2 separate regions of the Homo sapiens genome follow, and region 1 is linked to region 2. The links come from fine-mapping of genetic effects on gene expression. A gene starts in region 2. The other region holds a variant in brackets. All regions are shown on one strand. Distances are from middle to middle.

The links. PIP is the estimated chance that this variant, and not a neighbour inherited with it, causes the effect.
Region 1: its variant is fine-mapped to the expression of ZNF195 in fibroblasts (GTEx, PIP 0.97).

What each region holds. Positions count from the first base shown.
Region 1 is chr11:3,412,560-3,415,466 of GRCh38, forward strand. It overlaps the pseudogene FAM86GP. Among named protein-coding and RNA genes, the nearest start is that of ZNF195, 35 kb to the left of the region's middle. The variant C/T (reference allele first, on the strand shown) is at 1,212.
Region 2 is chr11:3,377,423-3,380,329 of GRCh38, forward strand. It overlaps ZNF195 (zinc finger protein 195), which reads right to left and starts at 1,724. Exons shown (of 6, transcript NM_001130520.3): 1 at 1,616-1,724. The coding sequence starts at 1,618. RefSeq lists enhancers at 1,425-1,988, 1,677-1,971 and a silencer at 1,430-1,499.

The sequences.
Region 1 (2,907 bases), 35 kb after region 2:
AAAAAAAAAAAAAAAAAAAAAAAAGGTGGGTGGGGGCTTATACTATGTGTTCTGCTTGGCACTGTTTTTTTCACTTCAAAGATATTGCAGTTATTTTTTCACATAAGTATCTGAAGAAAGACTTCCTTTTTTTTTTTTTTTTTTTGCCTTTTTGAGACAGGGTCTTGCTCTGTTGCCCAGGCTAGAGTGCAGTGGTGAGATCAGGGCTCACTGCAGCCTCCACCTCCTGGGCTCAAGCTATCCTCCCACCTCAGCCTCCCGAGTAGCTGGGACTACAGGTGTGCGCAACCATGCCCGGCTAGTTTCTGAATGTTTTGTGGAGATGGGGTCCCACTATGTTGCCCAGGTTGGTCTTGAAATCGTGGTGTCAAGAAGTCCCCCTGCCTTAGCCTCCTAAAGTGCTGGGTTGACAGGCCTGAGCCCCGCGCCCGGCCAGCCTCCTGTGCGAGGTTGTGCAGGACTTTGTCGTGGAACCCAGTATGCCTTCGTGTGCTGGCTTGTTTGTTGGCTCTGTAGTTAACGCGCTGCCCCACGTGGACAGGCATTGGACCCACGTCTCTGTGTGCAGGCAGAGGCTGCTGCGCGTGCATCTGTGCACATGGCTGCCAGGAGGGGCTGTGCTCAGGGTGATCTGGGGCAAAGGCTGGTGGCAATGGGGGGCTTGGGTGTAGTGTGGAGGCACGAGAGCCAGGTGGCCGAGCTGCAGTCTGTGGGAGCTCAGGGGTTGCTTGGCCTCTGTGTGTCCTAGTGTCTTTGTCGGTGAGATGGGACAATGATAGCACACTCTCACAGGTGCTGGGGGCTGACAAATGTCAGGTCTGAGGACAGTGGCTGGCCCACTACGGGGACAATTCCCCTTCTCTATAGTCACCCTGCTCGTCTTCCATCAACTGGGTGCTCAGGACAGTGGCGTGGTGGATCCGCCTGTACAGCCTGTGCTCCAGCGTCCTGCAGGCCACAGCTGTGTCCAGCCCTGACCCCGACTGCCCCTCCCACCACCTCCATTTTATAGATGAGGAAACCGACGCCCAAGGGCTTAGGGAACCCTGCTCTGAAGCACACAGTAGGGCTGCTGGGCTCAGATCCTCCCTCCCTGTGCTGAGCTGCCCTCCTCCTGCCGCAAGCTCCCACGCCCCAGGCCCACCCTGCTCACCGGCCTCTGCCCTAGTTCCCCGCATGGTGTGGGAGTGTGGGGCATCCTAGCTTTTCCT[C/T]GGCCCCCAGTTCTTTCACTTCCACTGGAGTCCCGCAGGGACAGCTCGGGGACCATGCAGGCCCGGGTGGGCGTGTGGGCTCACATAGCTCGGTGGTGAACAGCTGGCACGTCTCTGGGTTGCGGACGATAAGGGCCACGTAGACTTGAGGAGCCCGCTGGTGCTCCCGGTAGGCAGCCAGCCTCCGCAGGACCGCGACCAGCGACACGATGGATTCTGGGCAATACAGCACGTCTACGGTGAAAGCTTCAGGTTACTGAAAGGGACCAGCGGACAGTTCCAGGTCATGCTGACCTCAGCAGCAGGGCGAGGCCAGAGAGGCAGCAGTCATATGAGACTAGTAGATGCCATTTGACCATTTGGGCCATTAGATGGAAAGGCAATTGCTTGGGTGAAAAAGGAGAACCCTTAGTAGAGAAAGCTGCAAAAGACCGAAGCAAAAGAAAAAAATCTCCAGACTCACTGGTGTTCCTTAAAAAATGAGCTCTGGTTCTCGGCCTATCTAGAGGGCTGTGAATGACACAAAGCCTGACCCTGCCATGAACTTCGTGTTTCAGGTGTCTGCCGATTTGTCTGCTGGCTTGCAGGGGTGGGCCTGTGTCCCTGGCCACCGCTGGACCTGTGGGTTTCAGGGCTGGGACCCAGGACCACAGGCAGAGCTCTGTTCAACCAGAGAGGAGACCGAGTGTGCTGGCAGGGGCGAGGGGTTTTCGGTGGCCCAGCCAAACACCACCTTCTCTCAAGGGCCCTGTCCTCATCCCAGAAGTGGTTGTTTTCCTCCTGTGGTCTCTGAAAGACAGAGGCATGGCTCTGGGACAGAGCCATGTGGTGATGACTGTAATGGGAGTATGCCTGTCTCCAACAAGAGGGCTGTGGCTGGAAGGTCACCTTAAGAGGCACCCCTGTCCTTTGATGTCACCCTGGAGGCCCAGAGTAACTCTTCTGGAAGCCCCATCATGTCCATGCCCGACAGCGTCCATTGTTCCCTTTTCCCAGAGCCCAGAGCTGGGTAGAGCTGCAAGGACACCGCCTGCACAGAGTGCCCGGGGCTGGGCATTGCCTGCTGCAATGACAACATCTGGCTGGATGGCAGAGAGCTGATGGACCGTCGCGACGTCCCAGTCCAGCTGGGCCACTGTCACCCTGGGGCTGTCTAAGTTGGCAGAGATGTCTGCCTCTAATGAGAGGCCATTGAGAAGGACATTCCCTCGGAGCTTCTCGAGGACCTGGCTGTGACAGTCGCTGAAGATGTATGCCTGGAGGCGGCACATCTTGCAGATGGCCAGGCCTGTGAGGCTGGCGCCACTGCCAAGCTCTAGGACAGTCCTGGCGGGAGGAAAGGGGACCATGTCTGTAACTGCACCAGGGTGAGCCTGCCTCGGTGTCCTGCCGTGCGCCCCGAGGTCACCTATGAGAGAAGGCTGCCGGGTTCTCGATGGCCCATTCTGCCAGGTAGAGGGCAGCATCTCATGTGACCAGGCCTGTGATGCCATGGGAGATGATGGCTGTGCTCTCGGAGAGTGTGACTGAGCCTCCCGAGGGCTGCACCAAGAGAGGGCGAGAGAGTCAGTCCAGCAATCAGAAGGCAAGTGGCTTAGAAGACAAGTAGCCATCCACCACATGGCTGAATAAACCATGACAGGACCAATCGCCACTCAGCAATGAGAAGCAGCTAACTGTTGACATGCCAACAGCT
Region 2 (2,907 bases):
CCATCTCACGGGGTGGAGTTTTTCTTGCTCTTTGAAACATTCTGTCTCCCTTCACAAATCTGAGAGTCCAAAGGGCAGAAATGATTTCGGTCTTTTCCCTCTGACAGGGGCATGTGATTGGCTGATCAGCCATGTGTCTCCAGGGATTGAAAGTTGGGTTGGGTGAAGACAATCTTAATGTCCTAAGTGGTTACCTCTTTAGAGGAAGAGTAGACCAGGAGATTTCTCTCAGCCCAGGGCATCCAGCTGCTCCCTGGAGAGGCCACACTTCATACCTCAGGCTGTCCTCTGAGAAATAACCCAGGGCCTGAAATTCACTAGATGCTCCAGCAGACATGGCCATGGTGGGCATCCTGTGTTATCCCTGGACAATACTGAAACTGAGGAAAAAGTCCAGAGGGTGGCTGAGAGCAAATCACCCTGTCAAGTTTCCAAAGTGGAACCTCAAACCAAAGACATTCTGGTAAGGTGTCTGTGCCTAGGGAAAATAAAAAGGAGGAGAGGCACAAAGACTTTTTACAATAGCGTCAGGGGATGATTCTCTGCTTTCCTGTCACGTGGAATGATTACAAACAGAAAACAAATCTCTTAAAAAGTGCCGTCCAGGCTGGGCGCAGTGGCTCACGACTGTAATCCCAGCACTTTGGGAGGCCAAGGCAGGCGGATCACATGAGGTCAGGAGTTCAAGACCAGCCTGGCCAACATGGTGAAACCCCGTCTCTACTAAAAATACAAAAATTAGCCGGGCGTGGTGGTGCAGGACTGTAATCTCAGCTACTCGGGAGGCTGAGGCAGGAGAATTGATTGAACCCGGGAGGCAGAGGTTGCAGTGAGCCGAGATCGCGCCACTGCACTCCAGCCTGGGGGACAGAGCGAGACTCCATCTCAAAAATAATAATAATTAAATAGCAGGCAATCCGACTGAGGTGGCTCTAGTGCCCTGGGTTCTTAGGTTAAAAAAAAAAATCTAACTCAGATGCGTTTCTTGCAAATGACTATCTTGCAGAAACAAAATTCAGGCTTCGTCAACCACAAACCTCTAATTAACTTCTGATTACAGGACCAGAAAATTTCAGCCTAGATAGCTGAAATCAGGAGATGACGTAACTGTACCGAACTAATGAATGAATGTGGTTTGCTTCCTCATGCACCTGATAAAAGCCTTTCCTTCAAGGCCGGCTGGTGGGACCTCCAAACCCAAAAAACATGGTTGGGTCCTCTGCCATTCATGAATCGCTCTTTGCTCAAATAAAACTCTTTCACATTTTTGCAAGGACTCCCTCGAGAGAAAGGAGGGACTGGGGCCCCCACGGGCTACAGATCATCCTCTTATGCACAAACCACCCACGGAGTCGGGATTCTCCCTTCCTGACTCGGGGAGACGAGGGTCTGCGGGCGAAGAGCTGCCGGGGGGACATGGCTCTGGGCTTGGGCCAAAGCCGCTCTGCAGGGATGCGCCGGGGCGCGCGGGGCCCGGCCGCCATGGTGCAGCTGGAGGGGCCTCGGGTCCGCGGAGCCCGGAACCCACCCGGGCAGCCCGGTTCCTCCCGAGCCGGTACCGCGGGTTCCAGTCCGCCCCTCCCTGTCTCTCAGGAGGCCTGGCCCCTACACTCACCATCTCCTGGCCTCCAGAGAGCCTGGCGTTTCACTTCTGGATCTCCCGGTGCCTGCGGGTCACACGACCTACGGCTAGCAGGGGACACAGAGCCGCGGGGACAGGAAGTGGAGCTCTGTCGGGACAAAGGCCCCGCTAGATCCCGGAAGCCGTCCTCTCCTCTCCAGACATGTGCCTGATTGGACAGTCCCCGCCCCTACTCCTCTGATTGGATAGGGCATCACGCCCCGCCCCCTCAGGCCCTGAGTGACAGGAGCTGTAATCAGACAATGGGCCGAATGAGACAGCAAGGACAGGTGCTGGCCGCGATCTTTTGGAGCGGGGCTTCCTGCCTGCGCTGTCCGGCCCCACCTAGAGGATATTTACATTTCATCTTGTGACTGCGGTTATGTTTATTTATAAATAATAAATATATGTTATTCACCAATGGAAAGAAGAAAATAAAGACAATCATTTTGAATTTTTATATTTTATGGCCTTCCTGGCTTTTGGTCCTTTGAACAGACAGCCTGAAATTTCAAAAAGGATTCAAGCCTCTAAGAATTAAAATGTAAGCCATGTGTGAATCTTAAATTTTCTAGTAGCCACGTTTTAAAATGTACTAAGAAACAGGTGAAGTTGATTGTAATAATTTAACCCAGTATGTAACCATTTTCCTCTATGGTCAATATACAATTGGTAAGGAAGTATATATTTTGGGGTACTAAATCTTTGAAGCTCACTCTGTATTTTACCTTTTCAGCACATTTCAGTTCAGACCAGCTGTATTCCTGTTATTCAATAGCCACACATGATCAATAGCTGCCACACTAAAGTGCAGCTCTGAGGTCTAACCTCCCTTATGTCAGGAAGTGGAGGGTCTGAAAGTCCCTTTTCAGCCAGAGGTGAGGGAACAGCCTCTTGCTACAAACATCTCTCCTCCGGTCGAAGGGTGGACGAGATGGTGATCCTAGAGAGCATAGGGGAAAGCAAAAGAAAATATCCACGGGTAGAGGACTGCTGCCCATCAATAATGGGGCCCTAAGAGGAGAGAACACATCTTCAGATCTGTCCATAGCCTTGACCTCCAACATTTAGATATGGAGGAAATAGACTAGAGGCAGACTTATCTTGCTATTTGGCCTTAGCCCTAATGATCAAGCTGTGATTGTCTGTTTCTTCCCGTGGTTGGGGGGCTGTGTGAGTAAAAGCACCAATCACATATATACATGTGTACATGCATTTCTGTATGACGGAACATTATCTTACAAAAGATCCAACTTTAAATAAGGGGGGAGAATTAGTACCTATAA